Linked DNA regions of Homo sapiens: region 1 is linked to region 2. The links come from fine-mapping of genetic effects on gene expression. Tissue or cell type: prefrontal cortex. Region 2 holds a variant in brackets; the other region holds the start of a gene. All regions are shown on one strand. Distances are from middle to middle.

Region 1 (15,560 bases), 31 kb before region 2:
GCCTCAGCCTCCCGAGTAACTGGGACTATGGGCTCCCACCACCATGCCCAGCTAATTTTTGTATTTTTCATAGAGATGGGGTTTCCCCATGTTGGCCAGGCCGGTCTTGAATTGCTGACTTCAAGTGATCTGCCCGCCTCAGCCTCCCAAAGTACGACCTTCCTCTTGATGCTGTAACAAATGACCATAAACTTAGCCACATGGATGGAGCTGGAGGCTATTATCTTAAGTGACCTAACAAAGGAACAGAAAACCAAAGACCACATGTTCTCACTTCTAAGTGGGAGCTAAACGTTGACTACAAGTGATCGTAAAGATGAGAATGATAGACACTGGGGACCACTAGATGGGGAAGGGAGGAAAGGGGGCGTGGGCTGAAGAACCAGCCATTGGGTGCTATGCTTAGGGCCTGGGTGACGGGATCATTGGGATCTGAAGCCTCAGCATCATGTAGTTTAGCAGTTGCGAACTCAACAAGTTCACAAGTCTATGATTTTACAGTTCTGTTGATTAGAAGTCCCACCTGAGTCCCACTGGGGAAAACTCTAGGGGTTTGCAGGACTGTGCTCCCTCTGAGGCTCTAGGGGAGAACTTCCTTTGACTTTTCCAGCCTCCAGGGGCTGCCTGCATTCCTTGGCTCATGGTCCCTTCCTCCATCTCCAAAGCCACAGCGTAGCGTGTCAAATCAACTTTCCCTTGACTTCCACCCCCACCCGACTTCCACCATTCATCTCCTCTGACTCTCACTCTCTACCTCCCTCTTACAAGGACCCTTGTGATTATGTTGGTCCCACCCAGATAATCCAGGATACTCTCCCCATCTCAAGATCTTTGCTTTAATCCCTTCTGCAAAGTCCCTTTTGTCAGGTAAGACCACATGCTCGCAGGTCCTGGGGATTAGGATGTGGACATCTTTTAAGGGCCCATGATTCTGTGTACCACAGGGAAAGAGACCATCAGTGGTAAACATAATAAGTACATTTCATAATTTATTAGAAGGTGATGAAACTATGGAAAAAGAAAGCAGGACAAAGGGGGTTGGGAATTTAGGGTGGTGTAAAAGAGGCAGATGGTGATTTTAAAAGCTCAGTTGGGGTAAGCCTCATTGAGAAAGCAAAATTGGAGCACAGACTGGAAGGAATTGAGGGATCAGCTAAGCAGGTATCTGGGGAGAGAGCAACTGGGGGGCTGTGCAAAGGCCCTGGGGTGGGAGCTGTCAAGGAAGAAGCTAGAGCAGAGTGAGCACAACGAAGAAGTGGAGATGGTGATCTCAAGAGCCCAGCACTGTGCCAGGCATATAGTAAATGCTCACTAAAAGAGGTTCCTGTCCATGTCCCAGAGAAAGCTTCGGAGATGGACAACGCTCAGCCCTGTCCTCAAAAATTTATGGTCAAGTGAGGACAGAGGAACATGTACAACCGTCTTCTACATACTACTCATTCAACACTCACGACAACCCTGTGAGACAGGTATGTTACTCCCATTTTACAGATGAGTCAACCAAAGAACAGAGAGGGCAGGTGACTTGCCCATGGTCGCACAGCTGGGAGGTCTCAGAGCAGGTGTCTGTGCCCGAGCAAGCTGGCTGCAGAGTCCGTGTTCTTCTTTTATTAAATTTCAACTTTTATTGTAGATTAAAGGGTATATGTGCAGATTTGTGACACGGGTAAATTACATGCTGCTGAGCCTTGGGGTCCCAGTGATCCCATCACCCATGTGATAAGCATAGCACCCAACGGGTGGTTCTTCAGCCCACGTCCACTTTCCCCCCTCTCCCATCTACTGGTCCCCAGTTTCTGTTGTTCCCATCTTTATGTTCACATGTATTCAATGTTTAGCTCCCGCTTATAAGTGAAAACATGTGGTGTTTGGTTTTCTGTTCCTGCATTGGGCCACGTAGGATAATGGCCTCCGGCTCCATCCATTGGAGCCCTGGCTGCAAAGGGCATGATTTTGCTGTTTTTTATGGCTGCACAGTATTCCATGGTGAACAAGTACCACGTTTTCTTTATCCAGTCCACTGTTGACGAGCACTTAGGTTGATTCCACGTCCTTGCCGTTGTGAACAGCAGTGTGTAGCAAACATTTGAGTGCATGTGTCTTTATGATAGAATGAATTACTGTTCTTTGGGTATATTCCCAGTCGTGGGATTGCTGGGTTGAATGGTAATTCTACTTTAAGTTTTTTGAGAAATCTCCAAACTGCATTCCACAGTGACTGAACTAGTTTGCCTTCTCACTGAGCGTGTAAGTGTTCCCTTTTCCCCACAGCCTCGCCAACATCCACTGTTTTATGACTTTTTGTTTTTTGAGACGGAGTTTTGCTCTTGTTGCCCAGGCTGGAGTGCAATGGTGTGGTTTCGGCTCACTGCAACCTCCGCCTCCCAGATTCAAGCGATTCTACTGCCTCCCAAGTAGCTGGGATTGCAGACACCTGCCATCACACTCAGCTAATTTTTGTATTTTTAGTAGAGACGGGGTTTCATCATTTTGGCCAGGCTAGTCTCGAACTCCTGATCCCATGTGATCTGCCCATCTTGTCCTCTCAAAGTGCTGGGATTACAGGTGTGAGCCACTGCGCCTGGCCTGTTTTATGACTTCTTAATAGCTGTTCTGACTGGTGTGAGATGGTATCTCAGTGTGGTTTTGATCTGCATTTCTCTGATGCAGAGTCTGTGTTCTTAATGTTACTTGACGTTGCCATGTTGACCTCACCCACAGCCATGACTTTGGCCTTGGCCTTGACTTCTATCATGACTAATATATATACATAGAAAAAAAGAAAGGCTACGTTGGTTATCTCTGGATACTGATACTAGATGTATGTATTTTAAAGATTTTGTTTATTCTTTCCTCTGTTTTCCCAGTTCTCTGCTAATAAACATGAATTATGCTATTAGGGGAAAAAAACCATAATATAATAACTTTTAAAAATTCTGAATTAGGCTGGGTGCGGTGGTTCACACCTGTAATCCCAGCACTTTGGGAGGCTGAGGCAGCTGGATCACCTGAGGTCAGGAGTTTGAGACCAGCCTGGCCAACATGGTGAAACGCCATCTCTACTAAAAAAAAAAAAAAAAAAAAAAAAAATTAGCTGGGTGGTGGCTGGTGCCTGCAGTCCCAGCTACTCGGGAGTCTGAGGCAGGAGAATCTCTGGGACCCAGGAGGAGGAGGTTGCAGTGAGCCAAGACCACACCATTGCACTCCAGCCTGGGCAACAAGAGCGAAACTCCATCTCAAAAAAAAAAAAAATTATGAATTAGAGACCAGATAAAGAGAGGAGTAAGGTAGGTATTAGCAGTGAAGTGAAGGTTTGAGCTTGGGTGTCTGGTTAGACAGTGATGGCCTTGGCTGAACCTTAGAGAAGGAGTTTGATATCTCAGACAAGCAAAACTTAATAGAAACATAAGGCAAGCCACATGTGTAATTGTAAATTTTCTAGTAGCCATGTGAAACAGATACGGAGCCGGGTGCAGTGGCTCATACCTGTAATGTCAGCACTTTGGGAGGCCGAGGCAGGTGTATGGCTTGAGCCCAAGAGTTCAAGATCAGCCTGGGCAACATAGTGGGACCTCGTCTCCAAAAAGAAACAGGTACAGTTAATGTAATACCATATTATATTTAACCCAATATAGCATAAACATTAGTAGTTGAATTAGCAGTTGAATGCACGACCAACGTAAAAACTCCTAATGAAACGTTGACATTTTTTTTTTCCTGTCTCCAGCCAACAACAGATGCTGGTGAGGCTGTGGAGAAAAGGGAACGCTTATACACTGTCGGTGGGAGGGCAAACTAGTTCAGCCACTGTGGAATGCAGTTTGGAGGTTTCTCAAAGAACTTAAAGTAGAATTACCATTCAACCCAGCAATCCCACGACTGGGAATATATGCAAAGGACAGTAATTCATTACTGTCATAAAGACACATGCACTCACAGGTTTTCCAAATCGGGTCTGCATTTTATCCTTATGACAGATCTCATTTCAGACCAGCCATGTTTCACAGGGAAGCATGGGTAGAGAGCGACAGCCACGTCGAGCCATCGAGCTGGTAGATGAAATGTGTTAAGCACAACTCATTCATTACACCGTCTTTACTGAGTGTCTACTTTGCACCAGGCACTGCTTAGGGATCGGCGATTCCAAAGTGAACAAACAGATCCCCAGAAGCTGCCCCCGTGGAGCTGACATCCTAGTGTGGAGACATAGACGATAAACGAAGAAAGCAAAGTTAGTAAAATACAGAATATGTCAGGTGGAGATGAGTACGAAGAAGCATAAAACCAAGAGGGGCACCGTGAGTCCCAGTGGTATGCAAATGGTGGTTTTCAATCCTGGGGTCAGAGAGGACCACAGCAAGAAACTGACACGTGAACAAAAGTCTGGAGGAGGTGATGGGTGAGGAGTGCCGCAGCTGGGTGGAAAAGCATTCCAGGTGGAGGGCGCTGCAGGGGCACAGGGCTGGCGCCTTGCCCAGCAAGGAGGCTGAGAGAGGGCATTTGGAACCTCGTCTACCCAGAGGGAGGGGAGTCATACTGTTGGCAGAAGTGAGGCCACCCAGGGAGAGAGAGAGAGAGGCAGGAAATGGGCCAAGACTGTAACATCAATGGGAAACGCCTACATTTTAAGGGGAAGGTGGAGATGGAGGATGAGCAAGAACCACATGGGAGGCGTTAGCTGCCTTAGGAGAGCGCAGGGCCCCAGGTTCCAAGCAGCAGGAAGTTTCTCAAATGGAACCTGGGCCAAGGTTCCGCTCTGCCTGGAGAACAGGGTGCGGGTGGAGGAGGCCCAGGAGGCGGTGCCTCAGAACGCTCATCTCCTAACAGCAAGCATGTGCTGAGCCTAGATCCTCGCCTAAGTGCAGCTGGGCCTCATGGCAAACCTGCGAGTAAGTTCTGACTCCATACCCCTGTTTTACAGATGAGAAAACAGAGGCAGAGAGATGGGGCAGGACCTGTTCCAGGTCGTCCTGGTAAGTAGGGGTAGCAGCTCCATCATGTCCGTGGGTGGCTCCTGGCTTCTAAATAAGCAGCCTTGCCCTGCAGGGAGGGGCATTGAGACTGCGTCCCATAAAGCTGAAAGAAGAGGGAGTGGAGCACGCTGGACCATGCCCCCATAAGGGCTCAGCCAGTAGTTTCTGGATGAAGAAATGAAGGAATATTCTAGAATCTAGGGCAAGGTAATGATCAGGGCTGGGCCTAGCGGGAGGCAAAGGAGGCATCTAGGGTCTAAAATGTAAAAAGACTCTCACGCTTGGGCTCCTGGGTTTACAGGACTCTGATGGTGAACTTAAATTTTGCATTGCTCACTGGGCAAGTGTCTTAACCTCTCTGTGCATGGGATCCTAGACAGCACCTGCTTATAAGGCTAATATGAGACCTAAAAGCATTAAAATGCAGGAAGTGCTTCAAACATTGCCGAACACACAGACTGTATGGCTTTTAAGGTTTTTTTTTTTTGATACAGGGTCTTGCTCTGTGACCCAGGCTGGAGTACAGTGGCGCCATCACAGCTCACTGCAGCCTCAACCTCCCACGCTTAGGTGATCCTCCCATCTCAGTCTCCCAATTAGCTGGGACTACAGGTGTGCATCAGCACGCCGGGCTACTTTTTTTATTTTGTATTTTTTGTAGAGATGAGGTCTCACTATGTTGCCCAGACTGGTCTTGAACTCCTGGGCTCAAGGCATCCTCTGCCTCCCTAAGTGCTAGGATTACAAGTGTGAGCCACCGTACCCGACCTACACAGACTATATGTGTTTGCCACTATTGTCATTCACTAAAAGGCCAAGAGGGGTTGATGATACCTGCCCAGGGCATTCTGAAGGCTGTGCTGGCCAGGAGGTGGGGGGTGAGGGTCCCCAGGGAGGGAGGAACCAATCTTTCTGGAGCACTCACTCTGTGCAAGTGCTGGGCACAGCTGGCACCCTCTCCTGTAGCCCCACATCGATCTCAAGAGGCAGAGACTTTCACATGCCCATTTCACAGATGAGAGAACTGAGGACCATGAGCAAGAGGCTTTCCAGCATCTCGCAGAGGCTGAACTGGGATCAGGCAGGTGCGTCAAGCCTAGTGCTTGGGTCCCTTCTGCTTCGCCTAGGGGGGTGCCACAGGGTCTGACCTACCTGGGTTCCAGCCTCCTCTCTGCTGCTGTTGCATGACCTCAGGCAGCCCCCTCTGTTTCCTCATCTGTAAAGCGGGCATCAAAACAGTGTCTGTTTTGGGGCCGGGTGTGGTGGCTCACACACCTGTAATACCAGCACTTTGGGAGGCTGAGGCGGGCAGATCACTTAAGGTCAGGAGTTTGAGACCAGCCTGGCCAGCATGGTGAAACCCAGTCTCCACTAAAAATACAAAAATTAGCCAGGCATGGTGGCACATGCCTGTTATCCCAGCTACTTGGAAGGCCGAGACAGGAGAATCGCTTGAACCCGGGAGGCAGAGGTTGTAGTGATCTGTGATCACACCACTGCACTCCAGCGTGGGTGACAGAGCAAGACCCGTCTCGAAAAACAAAACAAAACAAAAAACCAGTATCTGTCTTGGAAGTGCTGAGAACAGACAAGGGAATATGAAGTTTGTGAAATGTTGAGCCCGCTGTGCTACATTCCTGTAAAACACACACGTGCACATGCACACCCACGTGCACACACGCATACACATAAATGCACATGTGCAGATACACCGGCTGACAGTGACAGCACACTTATGTGTGTGAAATGCTTTATGTGCTCAATTTCTTTTAAATCTCACAGGAAACACACGCTATGAGGAACTACCCACATGCCCACATCAGGCAGGAGGACCCCGGCGGGTGCAAGGGTGGAAGTCGTCTCTTCATGGCTGCACCCTTGGCCAGTGCCAGTCCAGCAGCCTCTTTCAAAGAAGCTTTTATAGGCAGATAGTTTGTCAGCCCAGCTCGAAATGTGAACAAGGTAGCAGCCGAGCCCCCACCCATCCGGCTGCACTCCCCTGCATGTCCAGCCCCGAGCCCTGTGTCAAGCACACCTCCTTGGGAGGAGACCGCCCCAGCCTGCAAGGAAGTGCTCATTATGGAGAGTGGAGAGTGACAGGCCACTCCCGGCCACGTCTCCAAGCAAGCCGGTGCCCCCTCCTCCTGCTGCCACCGCCCACTGAGCTGCCTGGGCTGCAGACGCCCTGGTTGGAGCGTCTGGGGCCAGATGTTATAGGGCAAGCTAAAAATAACCGGGCAGGCCAGCCACCATCGAGGAAGGGGCATGTGCTGGACGCGGACACATGATCCGAGGGACCCTGCTGGGTGGAACTAAGAAAGTCCAGCAGACTGTGCACGCTCCTGTCCCCACTCACAGGCCCACGCAGCGAGGGGGGCCCCTCTTCTGTGTGCGTCTGGAAGGTCGCTGCCCAGGGAGGAAATGCCTTTAACCGGCGTGGGGCCGGGCAGCTGCAGGAGGCAGATCATCCGGGCTCTGTGCCTCTTGCTACTTCTCCTCCACGCCGGCTCTGCCAAGAATATCTGGAAACGGGCATTGCCTGCGAGGCTGGCCGAGAAATCCCGTGTAAGTGCCTGGGATGGGGAGGCTGGGGCAGCCTGTGTGGGTGGGAGTCAGCCTTGAGGAGAGGCGATCCCTAGACACTGCCTTCTCCTGTAAGTGCTCCCCCAAAACGTGGCAAGGCAGGCGTCTTCCTATCCGTGTGTGTCTGAGTTGTGTGGTGGGCAGATGGGGCTCACCCCCAAAAAAGGACCCTTATCTGTGAATCAAGAGGCAAAAGACACATCACAAATGTGCCAAAGAATCGTGCCTTACTTTTGCCTTGTTACAAAAGTATGCTTGCTCCTGAAAGACAGCATCTCATTTCGGAACCCCAGGATTTAAACGGAGCATTCCGTCTCCCTGATCAGTACCAAATGTTTGTGAAATACACTTATGCATTCATGTGGTTGTTTATTCATTCAGCAAACAGAATGAATACACTCTGTTAAACAGAATTTAGCAGAAACCGCTCTGGGGAAGGCACTCTGTGGGGTCCTGTGGATACAAGATAAAGGAGGTACCAGCCCCCATCCTCAAGGGTGGCGTGGCCGAGGTGCAGAGGCAGTTGGGTGACAAACGATGGCAGTACAAAGAGAAGGCATGAGGCAGTGAGTGGCAAGAAACACATGCCCTGGGGCCAGATGTCTGGGTGTGAATCGGGCTCTGCTGCTCATTAGCTGCGTGGCTTCTCTCAGGCAAGCTGCTTGACGTCTCTGAACCCCAGCAATCTCATCTGCAAAAGACAGAGGGATGCATTTCTTCACACAACTATGTCTGGGTCGCCACTGTTTACCAGGTACTGTCCTAGGCTGTGGGGATACAGGCCTCACATCTCTGCCTGGGGAACTCAATGGGGGGCTGGGGGCAGCAAAGAATAAATGAGAGAGATCTCATTTATTAGTATGTGCAGATTGCAAGTGCTGAGGAAGCAATAAAGCAGGAAGGGAACTAGGAGAGAGAATGGGGTGGAGGAGGCTATCATTTTTGGTTCCTCCCACCCCCCAGAGATCACAGATCCGCAGGGACGGAGTGAGCCAGGACGATATCAGCACACAGAGGGCTCAAGAAGGTAATGCTGGCACCCACAGCACCTGTGTGAGGATTGAATGTCTCAGTATGTAGAACGTCTTTGCAACATAGCAAGCTGGCAGTGCATCTTGGCAGCTTTCAATCAAATAATTGTGACTTTGTTTGGTGTTGCCTAACAGGGTAGCATGTAGGTTCCTTGGGGTAGGGCAGGGTTCTGTTTCACTAATGTGTGCCCCTGGTGCCTGCCATTAAGTTGACGCCTGGTACATTCTTGTGGGTGAATTATGAGCGGCTGCAGTGGTAGCACGGGATGCGTGTGCAGCTCTTCCCCAGGAGAGTCAGACAGGGTTTTTAGGGTTGGGGACAGTGGACCTGTGGCTTTAAAGGATAAATAGGAGTTTGCCAGCTGGAGAAGAGGGAAGGGAGAATGATTAATGACCCCAGGCATAGTGGGGTGCCTGAAACTGTATTGAGACAAATCTGGGCCTCCAGGGCTCATATTCTCCATGTTCGGCACATGCTCGTGGCGGGAGACAGGAGGACTTCGAGAAGTGGAAAGAGTAGTAGAGTGACATGATGAGGCGCTTGGAGAAGGGAAAGCTCATGTGAGATGGTGTAGTCACCTAAGGCTTCCTGGAGGAGGTGGAGACCTTGACTGGATCTTGGGGAAGGATTAGGAATTAGGAGGAGGAAGGAAATTCCTGGAAGAAGGCTCAGCATGAGCCGAGGCTCACAGGCAGAAGTGGTGCATCTAAGAGCTGCTTGGGAGACCAGACCTGGCCAGAGGGGAGGCATTGAGGAGGGGTGAGAGACTCTTCTCAGATTTTATTGACTCCTCCATGCTCTTCTCTGGTGCAACAGGATGATTTAACCCTCAACTGTAGTTAGTAGCACTTTGGTTCTACAACCATAGAGAGATTGCCAATATGTCATCTGATTTTATCTCCACCATGTCCCAAGATGTCATAGGAGCCAGCACTGTGACATCCACATAGGAGGGTCAGGGTTGATATGCGCGGGGGATTTGGGGGAGTCTCTAAAACACAGGCCTGGGTGGGCTGCAGGAGCTGATTCACTTGTAGCCACCACTGGTCAGGATGCAAGTGCTTTGAATTGGCTCCTCGCTGAATTGAAACTTTCCCTGGTTATCAACAGATATTGGCCTCCTTCCTCAGCGCCTAGACATAGGTGAGGTTTATGCAGAACAACTGTGCCAGCCAGGCACGGTGGCTCATGCCTGTAATCCCAGCACTTTGGGAGGCCGAGGCGGGTGGATCACCTGAGGTCAGGAGTTCAAGACCAGCCTGACCAACATGGTGAAACCCCATCTCTACTAAAAATACAAAATTAGCTGGGTGTGGCGGCAAATGCCTGTAATCCCAGCTACTCAGAAGGCTGAGGTGGAAGAATTGCTTGAACCCGGGAGGTGGAGGTTATAGTGAGCCGAGATTGTGCCATTGCACTCCAGCCTGGGCAACAAGAGTGAAACTCTGTCTCAAAAAAAAAAAAAAAAAAAAAAAAAAAAAACTGTGCCTCAGAGAAAGCCCTGGGCGAAGACAGGCTGTTCGCCTGTGGCTCAGAGGACAGGGAGGGCTGGGAAGAGCACCTGGCCTGGAACTTATCACAGTGAAATCTCTAATGTGCTGTGCAATCTTGGACCACTCGCTGCCCTTCTCTGGTCCTCAGTCCTCACCTGGGAAATGAAGATGGAGAACCTATGACTTTCATGGCCCTTTCGTTCGACAGGGACTTACGGATGATAGGAAGCAGCCCCCACATGCACAAAGTCGAGACTTCCCCGTGAGGCACCACTCCCTCACCCTACGCTGAGTGAGACCTTCAGCCTTGGCCCTGACCCTCAAGGGCTATGGGCTCGTCAGAGTGAGGAGATGCTGGCTGTGTGCTGAACTGGCTTGCACCCCCTCTGGAGAGCCAGTTTTGTTCCACACAGCCATGATCACAAACTAAGTTATATAAACTTACAGTTAAATCATTTGTATTAAAAAGAAAGGAAAGAATTTTTTTTTTTTAAGACAGAGTCCCGTGGTGTGATCTTGGTTCACTACAACCTCCACCTCCCCGGCTCAAGTGATTCTTGTGCCTAGGCCTCCTGAGTAGTTGGGATTACAGGCATGTACCACCACGCCTGGCTAATTTTTTGTATTTTTAGTAGAGATGGGGTTTTGCTGGTCTCAAACTCCTGAGCTCAGGTGATCCGCCCGCCTCGGCCTCCCAAAGTGCTGGGATTATAGGTGTGAGCCACCGCACCCAGCCAGGAAATACTTCTTGTTAGAAATGCATCACTTTCCAATTGTATTGCTCCGTTTTGCTATTCTCTTGGCTCCTGGGGTTTTATGTCTTTTGCATCCGTGTGGTATGACCAGGAGAGAAGCTACTCCACATCTCTTCCCACTCCCATTCAGTGGCCTCACGTGGGTTGCCTGAAATCAACCATGCTGGGAGTATTTACACCTTGGAAATTGGCCAGGGCTACATGAGGAGAGCTGGTGGTTCAGTCCTGACCAAGCGCAGGGCTGCCTGTAGCCTGCTCTAGTCTCTCAAAGCCTCGTCCCCCGGCAGAGTGAGTTTTGTGTAGCGGACTGGTCTCTTAGAGTGGGGCCGGTTAATGTCCTGAGTGCTGTTTATGCTTCTTGGTCTAAGCATGCAGAGACAGTGCCAGAGATGAGCACGCTTGCCTTCCATTCCCGTGGGAGGCCCTTAGGAGAAGCTTCTAATGAGAAGTGCCGGGTCTCCCGCCTTCTATCTCTAAGACCTTCAGGAGTTTCCTTCTCCTATCTGAGCCTCGGTTTCCTCATCTGCAGCACGGGACACAGTAGTGCCTGCTTTGCAGGGCTCAGTAAAAAGACCATAGAGCCCACAGTTCCCTGACTGGCACAGAACTGCATTCCCTACATGTGCACTACGGACAGATTTAAAAACCCATTCCAGGCCGGGCACAGTGGCTCACAGTGGCTCATGCCTGTAATCCCAGCACTTTGGGAGGCCAAGGCAGGCAGATCTCCTGAGGTCGGGAGTTCAAAACCAGCCTGACCAACATGGAGAAACCCCGTCTGTACTAAAAATACAAAAAAAATTAGCCGGGCATGGTGGCGCATGCCTGTAATCCCAGCTACTCGGGAGGCTGAGGTAGGAGAATTGCTTGAACCCTGGGAGGCGGAGGTTGCGGTGAGCCGAGATCGTGCCATTGGATTCCAGCCTGGGCAAGAAGAGCGCAACTCCATCTCAAAAAACAAAAAACAAAAAGCAAAAAAAAAAAACCAAAAACCCCATTCCAGAACCAAATATTTATGAGAATGAATAAAACAGAAGCAGAACGTTTGTAAATAGTCCAATAACCTTTCCATGGAGCTCAGTCGGTTCTGTGGACTTGGTGTTTTTGGTTTTTCTTTCCTGGCATTAGATGAAACTCCTGAGAACAATGATTTACTGAGCGCTTACACTGTGTCAGGGCAAGAGTTTGCCACGTATTCGCTCTTGGGAGCCTCTCGACAAATCCACCGGGTGGGGCCCATGGCAGCCACCATGCGGGCCTCGGTGCTATGCAGCCCCTGGCCTGGGCAGGCTGGCCCCTACTGTCAGTGTGACTGTGGGTCTGTTTTCCCCTCTAAGCACCCCTCCAGGGCAGCTGGAAATGGTGGTTCAGTTTGCACCCTGCCCAGAGATGCCTGTCCTGCTGAGGGGGGCTGGGAGGGGCTAGAGCAGCCAGGAGCTGGTGCCACTTTCTCTTTCAAATGCATCCTGCCAGACGGGGGGAGGGAGGGGAGCATTGCATTGTCTATCTGGAGGCACCCCCTGTGCTAATAGCAGTAGGGGACTGTAGGAGCCAGCAGTGGCCCACAACTTGCATTCCTCAGTTCCCCATCTCCTTTCCCCCATTATTTCTGTGAGCTCTTGAGAGCCTTCCAAACATCCTTTTATTTTTTGCTGAGATAGCAAGAGTGGGAGAAGCAGATGGCCTGGAGCTGTGCTTTCACCATTCCATGAGTTCTGACCTTCACCTTCATCTTTGTACCGTAAGCATCTGTGTCTGCTGGCCTGAAGGCTTTCTCTGGCTGCAGGAGCCTGCTCAGCCCACACACAGTCAGGCCAAGGTGCCGGGGAGGTAACACCTGTAGGAGCAAATGGAGCTGGAGCCCGATGGCCCAGCTGGCTTCTCAACTTTGGTGGGACACGAGTGAGGAGTGTTCCACACGGTTTCTCCAAGGTCCACTGGGTTTGAGCTCTAGTGCCCAGGCAGCCACCTGCTCATTAACACTCCCTGAAGGGCGCCTTCCCTTTCCTGCCCAGCTTCCCACTCCCCAGCTGGGGCTTCCTGGGATCCCCTCCCAAATGTACTCCCTGCACTCGAATCCTGTCGGATCCATGCTGTGGGTTGAACTGTGTCCCCCCAAAGATATATCCAACCCCTAACTTCTGATCCTTGTGAATGTGACCTTTTTTGGAAACAGGTTCATTACAGGTGTAATTAGTCAAAATAAGATGAAGTCATGCTGGAGGTGGGTGGTTCCTTAATATGAACCCCGTTCCTTATAAGAAAAGGAGAAGGGGCCAGGCATGGTGGCCCACGCCTGTAATTCCAGCACTTTGGGAGGCCGAGGTGGGCGGATCACCCGAGGTCAGGAGTTCGAGACCAGCCTGGCCAACATGCTGAAACCCTGTCTCTACTAAAAATACAAACATTAGTTGGGCATGGTGGTGCATGCCTGTAATCACAGCTACTCAGGAGGCTGAGGCAGTAGAATCACTTGAACCTGGGAGGCGAGGTGGACGTTGCAGTGAGCCAAGATCATGCCATTGCACTCCAGCCTGGGCGACAGAGTGAGACTTCATCTCAAAAAAAAAAAGGAAAAGGAGAAGAGACATAGAATCAGAGACACATGGAGAGAAGGCCATGCAAAGACAGAGGGTTGCAGAGGTCAGAGTGATGTATCTACAAGAGACACATGAGGGACCAGAGAACATGAGGGACTGCCAGCCACCACTGGAAGCTGGGAGAGACATTGAAAGGTTTTCTCCTTAGAGCCTCCACAAAGGAACCAACCCTGCCAGACACCTGGATCTCAGCCTTCTGGCTTCCAGAACTGTGAAAGAATCCACTTGTGTTGTTTTAAGCCCCCAGCGTGTGGCATTTTGTTGCAGCACCCTCGGACACGAATACAGTCTGCTCTGGGCATCAAGGGAGTCAGCTTCTGTTGGTTGCAACCGGCAACGAGACATTTCACAGATAAGGAAACTGAGGCCATTGCAGAGAATGACTTATCTGTGCTGTTTTGGCTGGGGACAAGTGGGGCTATCACTATATCCCCAGAGTCTGGGAGCTTTGTCTGCTCCTTGAACCAGGTGAGCTCACACCCTGCGGGACTTCATCATCAAGACTATGAAGATGCCTACGTCTTGGGGGTCAGCGGGTGCTCAGTAGGCTCCGGAAACCCCCAGCAGCACCCAGGAGGGGGTCTTCAAGGCTCATGGTTGAGAACCCCAGAAAAGCCCCGGAGCTGCCTGGGTGCTGGAGAGAGGGGATATGTCGTACTGATGTGAAGCAAACTTACTGTAGGCTTGGCCACACCCTGGTGTCTAGCCCAGAACCTGGCATGGAGGGGGGACTGGAAGGAATGAAAAGTCCATGAATAGCTGACTTTTGAGGGGGACCTTAGGCAAATCACTTTCTCCTCGCTGGGACTGAGATTCCTCATCTGAGGTCCCAGCCCTGAAATTCCAGGTGGAAATCAACGAGTAAAGAAGCATCCCAGGTCCCTGTGTGGTTATCACTCGGGAGAGGGAGACAGGAAAGCAGGACACCTCTGTGCCAGCACTCACCGCAGCCACAGGGCAGAGGCAGATGGATGCCCATGGGGTGAGCACATCGCACCTGTCCACTCAGGGGACTAGAACTCAGCCATAGAAAGGTACGGAGCCTGGACACACGCCATTGCACAGATGAACCTCGAAGACATGATGCTGAGTGCACAAAGGCCACGGGTGTGTGACACTGTTTGGATGCAACGTCCAGAAGAGGCAAATCCAGCGGGACGGGAAGGAGATTCTTGGTTGCCAGGGGCTGGGGGAGGGAGGAATAGGGGGCAGCTGTCTGATGAGAACAGAGGTTCTGCCTGGGGTGATGGAAAAGCCGCAGAAATAGATCATGGAGGTGGTTGCACACATCGTAAGTCTAATTAATGCCGCCAACTCGCACACTTAAGATGGCTGAAATGGAAAATTGCATGTTATATATATTTTACCACAATAATTTTTCTAAAAAGCAGCGAGAACCTGAGGCACCTCTCGGGAATTCTGCGATGGCACATAGAGTCCTTGTGAGTCCTCTGTGTCCCCAGCACCGAGAGGCAGCCTCTCAGCAAGTGTCCGCTCACGGTGCCCACTCCGGCTCGTGGGTCATCGTAGCTTCACGCCCATCTCCTCCGAGGCCTCTCCCTGAATGCCCCATTATGATTTCCCTTAAATGTTTACATAAGAGCCCAGCTCTTCCTTCTTAGCATTTAGCTCTGTTGTTGTTATTGGCATGATTTGTTTAGGTTTCTCTCTAACTGCTTTTGCAGATGACCACAAAAAGCAATTCGTTCGCCTTATCTGTGTGCTGTTGTGTGTGGTGTCTCTGACTTGTCCTGAAACAGCCACGTGAAGTCAGGGCCAACGTCTTCTGGTTCAACTCGGAACTCCCCATTTCCAGCCCAGCGCCCGAAACCCAGTGGGCCTGGGAATTATGAATTTACTGTTGAATGAATGAATCAATTATGTTAAAACCTTCCGGAACAGAATAGAAGGGATGGAAAGTTCTAGAGGACTCTCGGGTGCACTGACTGACAATGACATTGTTGGGAAGACTTGGTCGACTTTGCCGTCTCGTGAATTTCTTTCTTTCTTTTTTTTTTTTTTTTGGCCTCCCTCTGAGGAAGTCCCATTAACCTTGTGCCAAATTCTGTCCCCAGAGCCCAGTGTTAAGGGCCCCGGGCACCAGGAAATGGCATTCATCTACGC
Region 2 (15,560 bases):
GTGTGGCTGTCCTTGTGCCTGTGGCTGAATATTTGTGTGTGTGTGTGTGTGTGTGTGTGTGTGTGCATGCAAAAGTGTGTGACTGTATTGTGAGTGTACATGTGTGGGTAAGCGTGTGTGTATGTGGGTGTGGATATGTGTGTGCAGGATTTGTGTGTGGGGATGCGTGCGTATATGTCTGTGTGTATTTGTGCGTCTGACTTGCTTGTGTAAATGTCTGTGTCCCCATGCGACTGTAGGGCTGAGTGTGTGTTTCAGGGTGTATCCGTGAACATGTCTATATGGATGTTGCTGAGCCTGTGAGAGTATGTTTGGGATCAGGTGAGCTTGGACTGCCTGTGTTTGTGTGCGTGTTTGTGGGTGTGCACGTGTGCCACATGCCGCTGAGTGAGACCCAGGGCCTAGCCTGGAACCTGGGGTACAGAGGCGAGGCCGCCTCTCTGGGTGAGGTGCGTTCCCTGCACCCGTCCCGGGAGTCTGCCTTCTAGACCCTAGCATGTGCACCTGTCCTGGGAGTCGGCCTTCTAGACCCCAGCGTGTGTCCCTCCTGCAGCAGAGGCGTGCAGCACCACGGAGGATGGGGCCGAACCCCTGCTCTGTCCCTCGGGCTATGAGTGCCACATCCTGAGCCCAGGTGACGTGGCCGAAGGTATCCCCAACCGTGGGCAGTGCGTCAAGCAGCGCCGGCAAGCAGGTGAGTGTGGCACCCCAGCCCTGATCCTGGCTCCTGCCCCAGTCCCCTTCTCCCTGTAAGCGCCTCTCACCCGCATGGACGACCTGCCCCAGGAAGCAGCCCCAGCACCTGGGCCTGACTGAGAGCTCCTCACATCTTCCCCCTGCCCGGCTCCTTCTTTCATGGCCCCTACCCTTTCCCTGTCACACTAGCATGTGACCGAAGCTCTTGAGCCAGCAGACTGGCTGCAAACCCCAGCTCTGCACCTCCCAGCTGGGCGACACTGGGGTTAATTTCTTCCTATCTCTGAGCCTCAGTTTCCTCATCTGTAAAATGGGGCTACTACATGCTGTTGTGGGGCGTGACTGAAATCATAAGTGCAGAGCAGTCGGAGCAGCCCTAAGGAATAGTAGGTGGTCAGTAAGCACTGGATGTTTTATATCCACGTATGTGTAGATGGACCCCGACTTACGATGGTCAACTTAAGATTGTTAGACTTTACGCTGGTGCAGAAGCAACATGCATTCTGTAGAAACTGTACTTCAAGTTCCCATCCAACCATTCTGTTTTTCACTTTCAGTATGGTAATCAAATTACACGACACATTCAATATTTTATTATAAAATAGGCTTTGTGTTAGATGACTTTGCCCAACTCTAGGCTAATGTAAGTGTTCTGAGCACAGTTAAGGTAGGCTCGGCTAAGGTATGGTGTTCAGTAGGTTAACTGTGTTCAGTGCATTTTGACTTAAGATATTCTCAGCTTGTAGGGGGTATATCAGTACATAACTCCATTGTAAGTCAAGAAGCATCTGTATCTGTTTTCAAACTGCATTGAATTAGAATTGTCTGAGAATCCTTAACTTCCAGAACTTCTGCCAGGACTGTTCAGTTTGACTTAATTTGTGTTCGTCTTTGGACACAAAGGCAATAAATAGATGAGTGAATTGTGTTGCTCTCATTGGCATAATTTTCCCAAGAAAAGAAAGAACAATGGCACAGCGATTCCTGGTGGTATCTAAAACCATCTCGAACCCCACTCAAGGCAATCAAGTTGAAAGACTTCAATGTGCTTTTTGGCATGGAGTTTGGATGAACTGTGTGGTGAGCCAGGAATCTGGGACTTCAGGGTGGCCAGGTTCACCTTGTCAAAGTCAGTGTCAGTCAGACTGAGACCACACCCAGGGGCCCCTGTCCCCGCTTCGGCATCTCATAGCCCTAATAGCTAAGGACAGGACCCTCAGACAAGATTGGTGATAATTACAGTGACCCTATTTGCCGAAAGTATACTGGGGAGTGCATGATCTGCCAAAACCTCTTTTTTTTTCTGATTTGAGAATGTTTTTCTCTGAAGTGTTTCAAGAAAGGCATAGACGTAAAATCAGTCATGCATTTAATGTCATTATCATTGCAGATAAAGTGATGCAAATCCCGGAATCCTGAACTTTGAAGAAATTATCTACAAAAGGCTTTGAAACAAAGAGATGCCTTTTTGGTTTCCTCTACATTCCACTTGCTATTTGCAGGGCTTTGTTTGGGGTTATAGGGTGGCTTCTCCAGCCAGATAGCCTGGGCTGCCACAGCTACTCAGCCCCTTACTGCTGTGGGCAGCAAATAACATAACCTTTTCAGGCCTCATTTGCCTTTTCTGTAAAATGGGTTCATAATACTTGAGGTACTTCACAGGGCTCTTTGAGGAGTGAGTTAATCTGTGTAGAGTGTCCATCAATTCACAAGCACAGTAAACAACCTTCACTGTTTTATCACTGCTTGTCTCTAGACACTCAATCCTGCCGTGGGTGGGTGGGGTGTATGGTCCTTTGGAGGTAAAACCGCAAGGGCCTGCCAGCCACTGTGAGGCTGCTGGAGTGTGGAAGGGATAGCCTTTTCCAAAAGAGAGCTGTGGGGCGAGTTGTGAGTTCGTTGGGCTATGCCACCATTTATAATAATGACGGCATAATAGGAATGCCTTGGGCACTTGTCTTTTTCATCCCCTGATCTTTTCATTCAGCCCTATGATGTCTAAGACCAAGGTCAAACCAAGTCAAACTAGTTCTTAAGGGTTCAAACCAGTTAAAAAAATTCCCATTTCAAGACAGAGCTAAGCAAAGAGGGTCAGTCATTCAGTGGTGACCACACCAGTGATGCCTACTGTTAACATGCACCTTTGGAGTGCTCTCTTTAAATTAAGCTTTGCTGCAAGCCTGCAAAAGGAGAAGTAGAACCAGGAGGCAGTGCTGCATAGGTTTCAGAGTGCAGGCTCAGAACCACAGAAAGAAGTCCAAAGCCTGTAACTTTCTTCCTCCGTGGCCTTGAGCAGGTCACCCAACCTCTCTTAGCCTCAGTTCCTTGATCTGTAAAATAGAGATGGCGATGGTAACCATAGTGACTACTTCATGGGGTAGTTATGGGGCTTGAGTGAGAGAAACACGTATGAAGTGCTTAGAATAGCACCTGGCCCACTGTAGGTCCTCAGTGAATGTGTGCCACCATCATCCCTGTCTTCGTAAAGGGAGGATATGAGTTCAGGAATTTACCCAAAAGATGCAGAGCTGGAAGAGCTGGAATTCCAAGACTGTCCACCAGCCTCAGAGCCTGTGTGTGTGTGTGCGTGTGTGTGTGTGTGTGTGTGTGTGTGTGTGAGCTTCCCCTCCCAAATGAACGATTTGAGGCTTCCAAATGGAACTGTAAGTGGAATTCCCCCTAGCCTTGTTCTCAGGGGGCTGACACTTAGCAATAATTACTGGTAATTTACTGGTAATTATATATAGGTTTGAAAACATTTTGAATTCCAGCAACTTCCCTTGGAGCAAAAATCTCAGGGGAAGGGTGGCCCCCTTGTCCCAGCCTTACCAAGGAAGAAGCTTTTTATTTAAGTTTTTAAAAACTGCATATTTGAAATAATTTCAGACTTATAAAAATGTTGCAAAAGTAGTACCTTGAATCCCCCACCCAGATTCACCAGTTGTTAAAAAACTACCGTTACATTTTCCTTTATGCTCTCTCCCCACTTATAAATCTACGTGTGTATTTTTCTGGACCATTTGAGAGTAAGCGACAGGCCCTGTGCCGACACCTAAGATGCCATCCTCCCGTAAGAGAGGCTTCTAGCGGGTACCAATAGTCCTTCAAGTTTGACCATCCAGCACCTGGAACCAGGCATTTGAGGGGTTCACATTTTATGCAAGAGGAAAATGAACACTGACATGTATAGTAAATCTGGTTTTTCAGAGAGTGGGTTCAGGGAAAATCGGTGCATTTTTCTGAGTAGGTTTGAGGTCACACAGAAGCTGAGCTGCGGGGGCTGGCCCCTCCTTGTCCTGCCCAAGACACTGCTTGAGAAGAATGAAGTGGGGCTTGTCTAGCCTTGAGTGGGAGGCAATTTGAGAAAAGTGACGAGTAATCATTTTTGGTAATAAATTATAAGTGATTATATTTGGCCTGAGGAGGGGGTCCGGGGTCCACATTTACCTCTGTCTCCTTGTGGTGTTATGGGCCAGAATTCACCCCCAGGTAAAGGGGGAGCAGGAAAGTTTTGGGGAGCTCCCCCAGCCTACAAAAACCTTAGCCATTTGCTTTGGAAAATAGTTATTGCTGCAGTTGCTGATCAGCAGGCGCTGACCCACCGGAGGGCCTGGAGCGGTTCCATGGAGCGTTAGCACCTTGACCGATAAATGTCCGTGCTGGTCCCAAACAGCCTGATGATTTTTAGTATGGCCACAAAACAAAAGAAAAAGAAAATGTCTGGCTACCGCGCATATGTGCTTGATTAACCTTATAGCAGAAAAGGCAGCGCTGATCACCAGGATGGAGAAGTGAGCTAAATTTGAGAGAGATTGCCACATTCAAGCATCCACATGTCCTGGTCACATTCCTGTCAGCAAATGCTTTCCTGCTACCATGGGGTGGGTAGCACGGCTAGTCATGGGACATGCATGAAATTGCCAGCAGTTGACCACTTTTTACACACAAAGATAGAATTTTCATACGGCTCATCCTAATACTGCATAGATATGTTTTAAATGAAATTGTTTCTTTTAATCCTCACAATAACTTTAAGAGGTACTAATTTTATGCCTATTTTTAGGAGAGGAAACTGAGGCTCAAAGAGGACGAGTGAGGATTCATACTCAAGTTACTTTGTCATTTGCAGTAATGACATCAGAGTGTCTCTTGGGCAGACTCAAAAGAGTGTCATCTCTTCCCCCTGTGAACATATTTTGTAATGACATTTACTCAACAGTGTGTTGAAATTTGGCTTCCAGTTCATCTGTTAAGACAATGGTTTTGGCCGGGCATGGCGGCTCACGCCTGTAATCCCAGCACTTTGGCAGGCTGAGGTGGGTGAATCACCTGAGGTCAGGAGTTCGAGGCCAGCCTGACCAACATGGCGATACCCCATCTCTACTCAAAATACAAAATTGACTGGGTGTGGTGGCGCATGCCTGTAATCCCAGCTACTCGGGAGGCTGAGGCAGGAGAATCACTTGAACCCAGGAGGCAGAGGTTACAGTGAGCTGAGATCATGCCACTGCACTCCAGCCTGGGCAACAGAGTGAGACTTCGTCTAAAAGAAAAAAAAAAAAGACAGTGGTTCTGAAACTTTTTGCTCTCAAGACCGCTGTACCCTGAAAGATGTTAAGGAGATCTCACAGGGCTTTCCTTTATGGGTTGATGGCTCTGGATATTATCATATTAGAAACTAGAGCTGAGACATTACAAATGCTCATGTAGCCTCTGAACAATTCCATTGTACACTAGTGAGATGGGGAGACTGAAAAACACAAGTAATTCCTCAGTGTTATTATGACAACAGTTTTGGCCTTCTAAACTCCTAAAAGAAGTTTTTTCCTCTCACTTGTTTTCCAGATGGGCGAATCCTACGACACAAACTTTACAAAGAATATCCAGGTAAAAGAAGAAACTGTTCTTTCTTTCCAGAGGGCACAAAAAAAAGGCAGTGAAAGTTTCTTATGTGAAGAAAAAAATAAAAGCCCAGGGCTGAGATATAGGGAACAAAATGGGACCTGGGATTAAGAAACAAAATAGAAGACCTGTGGTCTGATGGTGGGCAGGGAGTTGTGAGTCACAGAGGAGCTCATGGCAAACATGACCTCATGCTGAAGAGCAGAGCCTGGAACTGCTCATATTTAAGCCTCTGCTACTTTCATTCAGAGAATTGGAAAACACGCCTGATACCACTCTTCCATTCATCCATCTAATCATCCATTGATCCATCCATCTCTCCATCTATTATTTCATCCATCCATTCATCCCTCCATCCATCTACCCACCCATCCATCTACCCACCATCCATCCATCCATCCACCGATTCATCCATCCATCCTCTCATTCATCCATTCATATATCCATCTATTCTTTCATTCATCTTCCTGTTTTTTCATCCATTCATTCCTCTATCAATCTATTCATCCATCTATTCATTCTTCCATCCATCCACCCATTCATCCATCCATCCACATATTCATCTATCTTTTCACCCACCCATCTATCCTTTTATCCACCCCTTTATTCCTTCATCCCTCCATCCATCCATCCTTTCATTTACTTACCTATTCACCAATCATCCATTCATCTATCCATCCATCCATTCATACATACATCCTTTCACTTATCCATCTATCCACCCATCTACCTTTTTTTTTTTTTTGAGATGGAGTCTCACTCTGTTGCCTAGGCTGGGGTGCACTGGAGTAATCTTGGCTCACTGCAAACTCTGCCTCCTGGGTTCAAGCAGTTCTCCTGCGTCAGCCTCCCAAATAGCTGGGATTACAGGTGTCCGCCACCATACCTGGATAATTTTTGTATTTTTAGTAGAGACGAGGTTTCACCTTGTTGGCCAGGCTGGTCTTAAACTCCTGACCTCAGGTGATCTGCCCGCCTCGGCCTCCCAAAGTGCTAGATTTACAGGCATGAGCCACTGTGCCTGGCCCCATCCACCCATCTGTCTATCCATTTATCCATCCATCCACTCATCCATCCACCCACCCATCTATGCATCCACCCACCATCCATCCACCCACCCATTCATCTATCCATTCACTCATTCATCCATTCATATATTCATCTAATCTTTCATCCATCCATTTTTTCAAGCATGCATCCATCCATCCATTCCTCCATCGATCTATTCATCCATCTGTTCATTCTTCCATCTATCCATCTATATATTCATCTATCTTTTCATCTACCCATCTATTATTTTATCCACCCTTCTATTCCTTTATCCCTCCATCCAACCATCCTTATATCCACTCATCTATTTGCCCGTACATCCATTCACCCAACCATCCATCCATCTGCCCATTCATCCATTCATGCACATATCCTTGCATTCATTCATCTATCTCTTCTTTCATCCATTCATACATCCATCCATCCACCCATCCACCCATCTACCCATCCATCCATTCACCTATGTATCCATTCATCCATCCACCCATATATCCATCTATCTATTCAGCCATCCAGCCAGCCACTATCCATCCATCTATCCATCCATCCATATATCCATCCGTCCATCCACCCACCCATCTATCCATCCATCCATCCATCCATCCATTCATCTACCCATCTATCCATCTATCCACCCACCCATATATCCATGCATCCATCCATCCATCATTTATCCATTCACCCATTCACCCATCCATCCATCCATCATTTATCCATTCACCCATCCATCCATCCATTCTCCCATCCATCTGATATGTCTTTATCAATAATTTACAGCACATATTTTCTAAGTATTACTCATCAGTCTGTGCTGGGGGTTGGAGCTACATTTGTGAACATGACAGACCCAGTCGCTGCTGTCATGCAGCTAATATCAAGCAGAAAATTCAGACATGAATATAGCCCAAGTGGTTATTTTATGAGAATAGTGACAAGCCTTCCTGACATCACATGCTGGATACTATGAGGACACCTTAGTCCAGGTTGTGAGAAAAGGCTTCCTAAGGAGGAGACATGAAAGCTCAGCCTAAAGAATAAGAAATAGTGGGCAGCAGAATGGCATGTGTGAAGCTCTTGAGGTCGGAAGCAATTTGGCCATCCCCAAAGCTGGAGTGTGTGGTGAGCTGTGGAGGTGGTGGGAGGTAAGACCAGAAACATAGACAGAGCTGGTGACACCAGCTGGGGGGCCTGGGGAGGGAGAGGAGGCACTGCAGGTGGGGACTGAGTGACCTCAGCTGGGGGAGGGAGGAGAGGGCCAGGTCACCAGGCTTCATTTGGCAGTTCCTGGTGAGCCACGGGGGGCATTAGAGCAGGAATAGATACATCTACCCCAACAGAGCTGTGTTCTTTTCACAGAAGGTGACTCAAAGAATGTGGCAGAACCTGGAAGGGGACAACAGAAGCACTTTCAGTAAAGCAACGGCAAGCAGGTGAGTGGGCAGAGAGCAAGAGTCATGGCCAGGGTAAATGTGGGCAGCCAGTGTCCTGGCAGCTTTCACCACCAGGTTGAGGAGCAGGAGGGTGAGAGTAGCGCTTTCCCTACTGGTAGAATTTGAAATTCCCTTCTGCAGTAAGTCCTCACCTAACGTCATCAATAGGTTCTTGGAAACTGACTTTAAATGCAACGACATACTATATGCACTGTATGCCATAGAAGCTTAACTCATTTGTTTGTTTTTTTAAGAGATGGGGTCTCACTCTGTCACCCAGGCTGGAGTGCACTGGCACAATCATTGTTCACTGCAGCCTCAGACTCCTAGGCTCAAGCCATCCTCCTGCCTCAGCTTTAGTCTCAGTAGCTGGGACTACAGACATACACCACCTCACCTGGCTAATTTTTTTTTTGTATTTTTTGTAGAGATGAGTTCTCACTATGTTACTCAGGCTGGTCTTGAACTCCTGGCCTCAAGCAGTCCTCCCACTTTGGCCTCCCAAAGTGCTGGGATTGCAGGCATGAGTCACTGTGCCTGGCCTTAACTCTTGTTTATATCCATTAGCCTATGGTAAAATTGTTTTTGTTATATAGTAGGTCATTTTGCTTAAAGTTGCAGTTTCCAATAAGCTATCCATGATGTTAAATGAGGACCTACTGCAATTTCAAGGCAGGAACGTAGGAGAACTTTGTGTGTGATCAGAAGCAGAAGCAATTCTGTATCCCTCTGAATCAAAAATCCAAGACCAGACTAGGTCGCAACTTTCCTTTTCATTCCTTTGCCTTGATGTCTCCAGGAAGTCTTGTCTATCTCTTCTCATTTCTGTCAAACAATTCTGTTGGGTGCCAACTATCTGATAGTCATGGTTCCAGCCTCTTGGTTGCTCAGCGGTAGTTCATGCCAGGGTGGTATAGTGAACAAATCCCACAGAGCCGCTGCCCTCAGGGAGGCCACATCCTGGTAGGGGACGGCTACACAAGCCAACAGATCAATCAATACAAAGACAGGTGTGGTGAAGAAGTGAACAGGCAATGTGGGGCAGAGTCCCTGGGCAGGAGCAGAGCCTGGGGCAGGGGCTGCTTCGTTTGGGGTCAGGGAAGGCCCTGTGGGGGTTGAAGTCTGAGCCAAGATCCAAGGTGAGAAGGTGCTGCTTGGGGAGGGTCTGGAGGATAGGCGCCCAGGTGGAGGGAGTTGGAAGAGTGAAAGTACTGAGGCAGGAGGGACGCTGGCTTTGGGGAGCCAAAGAAGGCCCCTGGGGTAGACGCAGGAAGGTGGCAGGGAGGCTGACTCCAGAGGAGGCCGCAGGTGAGGCACAGGCTTGCCCTCACGTGCCCTCAAAGGTGAGGCGTAGGTGCATGCAAAGGGCTGTGGAGTTGCAGCCCTAAACCTGAAAATCTACCCAGCCCCTGTGAATGCTGGATAGCCACAGAGGGCAAAAAGGAGCCCCTAAAAGCAGGTGACAGCCTCCCAGGACGTCGCTGAAACGCAAATGTCAGATTGCAGGTTCCAGAATCCTCCCGGAAAATCTGGAGCCCGTAGGGACTGATGCCAGCACGTCTGTTACCTGCTGATGACAGGAGCCGTCCCTGGAGTAGGTCAGATGCAGCTGAGGACTGAGCTTCTAACAGGGAAGAAGGAGGCCAGTGGATGAGGACGAGACCTTGGGAGGCAGTTGAGGATGGCAGTTTGGAAGTTGAGGCTTTTGGGTGGGCGCAGCAGCTCCCGCCTGTAATCTCAACATTTTGGGAGACCGAAGCAGGCATATGGTATAATCCCAGGAGTTCAAGCCCAGCCTGGCCTGGCCAACATGGTGAAACCCTATCTCTACAAAAAAAAATACAAAACTACCCAGGCATGGTGGTGTGCACCTGTGGTCCCAGCTACTTGGGAGGCTGTGGTGGGAGGATCACCTGAGCCTAGGGAGGTTAAGGCTGCAGTGAGCCATGTTTGCACCATTGCACTCCAGCCTGGGTGACAGAGTGAGACCCTGTTTCAAGAAAAAAAAAAAGTACAGCCTTTGGAGCAAGCTAGGTCTGGGTTTAAATTCTTGTTCCAGCACTGTGGATTTAGTAAATAATTTCGGCTCTCCAAGCCTCAGCCTCCTCATCTATAAAATGGAACTGATGGTAGGGGAGGAGTTAGGAACTAAATAAGATGATGCCGTGAAGACGTCACAGTGAGTTCAGAATTGGGTCTTCTCAGAAAGGGGCATCTTCCTGGTGTTTCTGATGGTGGCGGTGGCGGCGGGGAGACGAAAGATTTGTGACTCTGTGGTCTGCCCTGCAGTGGTTCACCCTGACCCTTCTTTGTCTCTGGTCTGCCCTGCAGCGGTTCACCCTGATCCTTCTTTGCTTGCTTTCCAGCTAGGTTGCAAGAACATTCCTCTACTTTCTGCTAAGCCTTGGAAACAGTTGGGAAAAGTAGTTTGACCCTCACAGTTCACATTCAGCTCAGCAGAGCAAGACCCCAGAGATGCTTAGAGACAGGACACCTGGCCATCAAACCCAGTTTGGCCCAGCCTGGTTGGGTGACTTTGTGGGAGCCACTTAACAGCTCTGGGTCCCTGTTTTACCATCCTGGGAGCAAGGCCCTGCAGCTCCACGAGACCTTTACCCCGGGAAGAAGCCGCC[A/G]CCCATGAAAGCATTTCTGAAGCCCCTTTCTAAGACAAGGCTCAGCATCTTGATATTTTTGACAGATTCCTCCCAAGTCTGGCTCTGGGAGGTATGTACCCATCTCAAATGTTCCCAAGATAAATTCATCCTTCAGGAAATGGAAATGAACTTGCTTACTAATGTGTGATTCCTAGTTGTAGCCACCGGATGTGCTGAGGCCTAAATGTTAGCAGGTGGGAGGAGGCCACAGAACAATAAAAACAACCAAATAAGATGCCGAGTCTCTGGTGTTTTGTGATACTTTGTCACTGTTTAATTCAGGGGTGGGAAGCAGCGTGGGTATTGCTGGGATGAGGTGTCAGCTAGGCTCTGCTCCTGGAACCCTGTGTTAGCATAGAGCCCCTGAAGCAGACCTTGGGAGGGGGATTTGTTGAAAGTGATTCATTAGGGCGGTTCCTGGGAAAAACTGGCATGAGAGTGGGGAAGCGGAACAGGAGGAGACAGTCAGACGAGGGAGAGGTGACGAGGGCCCATGGAGGGCACCTTTGCTGCAATCCCTCTGGGGGTCTTGGAGGAAGCCTGAGTCCCACCAGGGCTGGCTCCAGGGCTGTGCATCCAGAAGGACCCTATGCTTGGTTTAATGATCTGCTGTCACCATTTAAAAACTCTTAGTCATTGTTGAACAAGGGGCCTGCTTGTTCATTTTGCAAATGATGTCGGTAGCCCTGAGCCACACTGTGGAGTCGGTCCCACTGGGGCTGGACAGCGGAACCCGAGTATGCGTAACGCTTCCAGCACCCATCAGTGGGTGGCGAGGCTGCCCCTCCCCCTAAGAGAGGAGGCAGCCCACCTGCTGCCAGGGAGGGAGAGGCACAAAGGCACCCAAGGGGACATCGGCAGAGCCCCTGGGGCACCCCGGGGCTCTCCCATTAAATCATGGGTGCCCCACCTGTGCTAGACGGCTTGCTCGCACTGTCCTGGGGTTGGCTGAAGTCCCCAGGGCTCATCAGAGCTGAGGACAGAGGCCCTAAGGGACTGTGCACCCCCAGCTAGCCACATACAGTGGAAGCAAATAATTACAAGCAGCAGAGACTCCAGGGGGCCTGGCAACGTCTGTGCATCTCTCAGATGAGGAAACTGTGGATCTTGGAGATCTGAAAGGACCCACCCAAAGCTGTGAAGTCAGTAAGAGCCAAAACCAGGATTCCGAGCAGGCAGTCCCACCCCACACTCAGGCTCCAGACAGCCTGCTCTTCTGCTAGCCTGGCCTGTCGGAGCTGACTCCCTCCCGCCACTGAGGTGTAGAAGGGACGCCTGACAGTGTGCCATCCTGCGGAGGACTCTGGAGTGGAAGGGACTGGGCTGAGCTCATCCCTACTCCCTGGAGGGCTGCTCACTAGATGGGGTGGAGACACTAGAGCCTGTTCAGCCTGAGTTCCAATCCTGGGCAAGGCACTTGCCCTCTCAGAGCCTCAGTCTCCTCTTCTCTGAACTGGGTGTAATAAAAGTAGCTGGCTTTCAGAGTTCCTGTAGGTATTGCGTGAGATGCTACATAGTAAGTGCTGAGCACACAGGGATGGTTATAATTATTATCATTAGCCGGGCACAATGCACACTAATTCTCTTAATACAAAACCTCGTGAAAAGAGTATGAACATCCGCATTTTCCAGCTGTAGAAATTCAGCCTCAGAGAAGTTAAGCAAGTTGCCTAGGCTCAAAAAGAAAGCAAATGACAGAGATGGGCTTTGAGCCCAGAGCTTCTGATGCCCAAGACTAGACAGGCTGGTCCTACCTTGTGTTGAGTCCCAACCACCAGCTGGGCGGCCCTCACAGGTTACTGAACATGCCCCAGCCTCAGGGTCCACATTTCTAAAGTGTCAACGAGAACTCCAACCTCATTATGATTATTACTGTGAACTCAGTCACGATCATATGAATGGGACTGGACTGTCAAGATGCAAATACCAAGGCAGGAAGGTGGTCGTATACTGCCAAGTGGTCAAAAATAAGACCTGCTTTCTGCTTTCAAGGAGCCCAAGTCCTTGAGGGAGTGAGAGAAATGAGAGAGTTATGATCCAGGGTGGGGAAGGCACAGATGGGAGCAGGGGCCGGAGGTGCCAAGAGAGCCCAGTGAGGGATGCTAAGCCAAGGCAGAAGGCAGGGAAGGCAGTAATCAGGGAAGACATCCTGGAGGTGGTGATGTGCTAGTTGGTCATAATATCTGAACACTTCTGGGAACGTGTGCATTTCAAGGGGAACTGCTGTCCCTGTTTGGCTTAAGGCAGAGGTTCTCAACCTTGGCACTATTGGTGTTTTGCGCAGGATCATTCTTTGTGGTGGGGGCTGTCCTGTGCAGTGTAGGATGTTGAGCAGCACCCCAGCGTCTACCCACTAGATGCCAGAAGCACCCTCCCCCAAGCTGGGACCACCAAAAATGTGACTTTGCCAAAGTCCCGTGGGGTACAGTTACCCGGTGAGAACTTCTGGTTTAAGCCCAAAATAAGGAAGCTCGACTTTGTATCATTTCACCCGTCAGCAAGTTCTCCCGGGGCACTTTCCCTTAGGCTCACGGTAATTAACTTTTCCACTCACTCATCACTTGTTCATGCACTGACTCATGCACTCATTCTCTCAAGTAATATTCCCAGGCACTAACCACCTTTTCTTTAATCAAATCTGAGGCACCATTTTTTTTTTCACCTTTTGACATTCCTGAAGTTAGGGCTTGTCTTATGGCCAGTGTCCTCCAGGCCCAGACACGAGGGAGGCATCATTGCCTGTACATGTGAATATCAAAACATGTAGGTTGGGTGTCAGCAGCTTGGTGGAAACTTCCAGAAACAACAGAGGAACCAAAAATTCTGCATCACCAATGCTCTCAGAAAGAAGTCCTATGAAATACCTTATCTCATTTATTGCACTTATATTTTTATGTGATACACACATAAGAATGACGCATCATGAGGCCGGGCGCGGTGGCGCAAACCTGTAATCCCAGCACTGTGGGAGGCCGAGATGGGCAGATCATTTGAGGCCAAGAGTTCGAGACCAGCTTGGCCAACATGGCGAAACCTTATCTCTGTTAAAAATACAACAATTAGCCAGCTGTGCTGGCGCACGCCTATAATCCCAGCTACTGGGGAGGCTGAGGCACAACCAGGGAGACAGAGGTTGCAGTGAGCTGAGATTGTGCCACTGCACTCCAGCCTGGAGGACAGAGCAAGACTCTGCCTCAAAAAAAAAAAAAAAAAAAAAAAAAAAAAAAAACGCATGATGAAAACTTATGTCTATGTAAGTCTAAGAAAGGCCTTTAATGACCTTGAAATCAAAAGGGAAAGAGCAAGATGGCCAAATAAAAGCCCACTCCATTCATCTCCCCTGCAGGAACACCAAATTTTAGCAACTAACTACACACAGAAAGCCTCATGACAAGAACAAAAAATCAGGTAAGCAATCACAGTTCCTGGTTTTCACTTCGTGTTGCAGAAAGGGGCATGGAAGAGGCTAGGAAAGACAGTCTTGAATCGCCGGTGCCACCCCTCCTTCATCCCGCAGCAGCAGCCACGAGGCATGGGGAAATCTATGCACTTGGGAGAGGAAGACTGCAGCCACTGGGGGGCTTCACATTGAACTCAGTGTTGCCCTGTCACAGCAGAGAGCAAAGCCGTGGTGGCTTCAGCCAGCGCCCATGCACAGAGGGAGCATTTGGACCAACCCTAGCCAGAGGGGAATTGCCCATCCCAGTGGTCGGAACTTGAGTCTCAGCAAGCCCTGCCACCGTGGACTAAAGTGCTCTGAGGTACTAGGTAAACTTGAAAAGCTGTCTAGGACACAAGGACTGTAATTCCTATGCAACTCCTGGTACTGGGCTGGGCTTAGAGCCAGAGGACCTGTGGGGCACATGACCTAGAGGGACACCAGGCTTCAAGGCTAAGGAAGTGCTTGAACCACCCCTCCTCCAACTCCAGGCAGCACAGTTGGCAGCAATGAAAGTGACTCCTTCCTTCTGCTCAGGGAGAGGAGAGTTAAGAAAAGAGGCCTTTTTACGTTGCATCTTGGAGTCCAGCTCAGCCACAGTTGGAGAGGGCACTGGGCAGAGTCATGAGGCCCCCATTTCAGGCCCTAGCTCGTGGGTGACATTTCTAGGTATACCCTGGGCTAGAAGGGAACCCACTGCCTTGAAGAGAAGGACCTAGTCCTGGCAGGATTCATCACCTGCTCACTAAAGAGCTCTCAGATCCTGAATAACCAACAGTGATCCCCAGGTAATATGCTGTGGGCCTTGGGCCCTGAGAGGTGCTGGTGTCAGGTGTGACCAGTACATTCCCAGCTGTGGTGGCTATAGGGAGAGACCCCTTCTGTTTGAGAAAAGTGGAAGGAAAAGTAACGGGGACTTTGTCTTGCACATTAGGTACCAGTTTGGCCACGGTGGGATAGAGCACCAAGCAGGCCCTTAGGGTCTCTGAGTCCAGGCCTAGGCTCTTGGACAGCATTTCTGGACCTGCCCTGGGCCAGAGGGGAGCCCAGTGCCCTGAAGGGTGAGTCCCAGGCCTGGCAGCATTCATTACAAGCTGACGGAAGAGCCCTTGGGCTTTAAGTGAACACCAGCAATGGCCTGGCAGAACCCCCGACCATGGGCCAGTGGTGACAGTGGCCACAGGGAGAGGCTCCTTTGCCTGTGGAAAGGGGAGGAAAGAGCAGGAAGGACTTTGTCCTGTGGTTTGAGTGCCAGCTTAGCCAGAGCAGAATAGAACACCAGGTAAACGTTTAAGACTGTAATTCCTGGCTCTGAGGCAGCATCTCTGGGCCTATCCAGGGCCTGAGGGAACTCATTGCCCTGAAGGGAGAGACACAAACCTTGCTGGC

Direction of the effects. Alleles are on the strand shown, and positions count from the first base shown. SD is a standard deviation of normalised expression in the study named.
For the expression in prefrontal cortex of the gene that starts at base 7,301 in region 1, A is the high allele of the variant in region 2 and G is the other (small effect, 0.26 SD a copy in CommonMind).

What was found.
Region 1: WFDC1 starts here. The variant in region 2 is fine-mapped to the expression of WFDC1 in prefrontal cortex (CommonMind, PIP 0.95).

What each region holds. Positions count from the first base shown.
Region 1 is chr16:84,287,578-84,303,137 of GRCh38, forward strand. WFDC1 (WAP four-disulfide core domain 1) reads left to right here and starts at 7,301. Exons shown (of 7, transcript NM_021197.4): 1 at 7,301-7,538. The coding sequence starts at 7,395. LOC124903734 reads left to right here. Exons shown (of 6, transcript XM_047435022.1): 2 at 1,340-1,469; 3 at 4,121-4,399; 4 at 4,922-4,973; 5 at 5,940-6,058; 6 at 6,756-7,261. The coding sequence starts at 4,396. The coding sequence ends at 7,261.
Region 2 is chr16:84,318,878-84,334,437 of GRCh38, forward strand. It overlaps WFDC1 (WAP four-disulfide core domain 1), which reads left to right. Exons shown (of 7, transcript NM_021197.4): 4 at 554-694; 5 at 5,542-5,583; 6 at 8,005-8,078; 7 at 10,445-10,967. The coding sequence ends at 8,063. Among named protein-coding and RNA genes, the nearest start is that of WFDC1, 32 kb to the left of the region's middle. RefSeq lists an enhancer at 588-1,109. The variant A/G (reference allele first, on the strand shown) is at 10,712.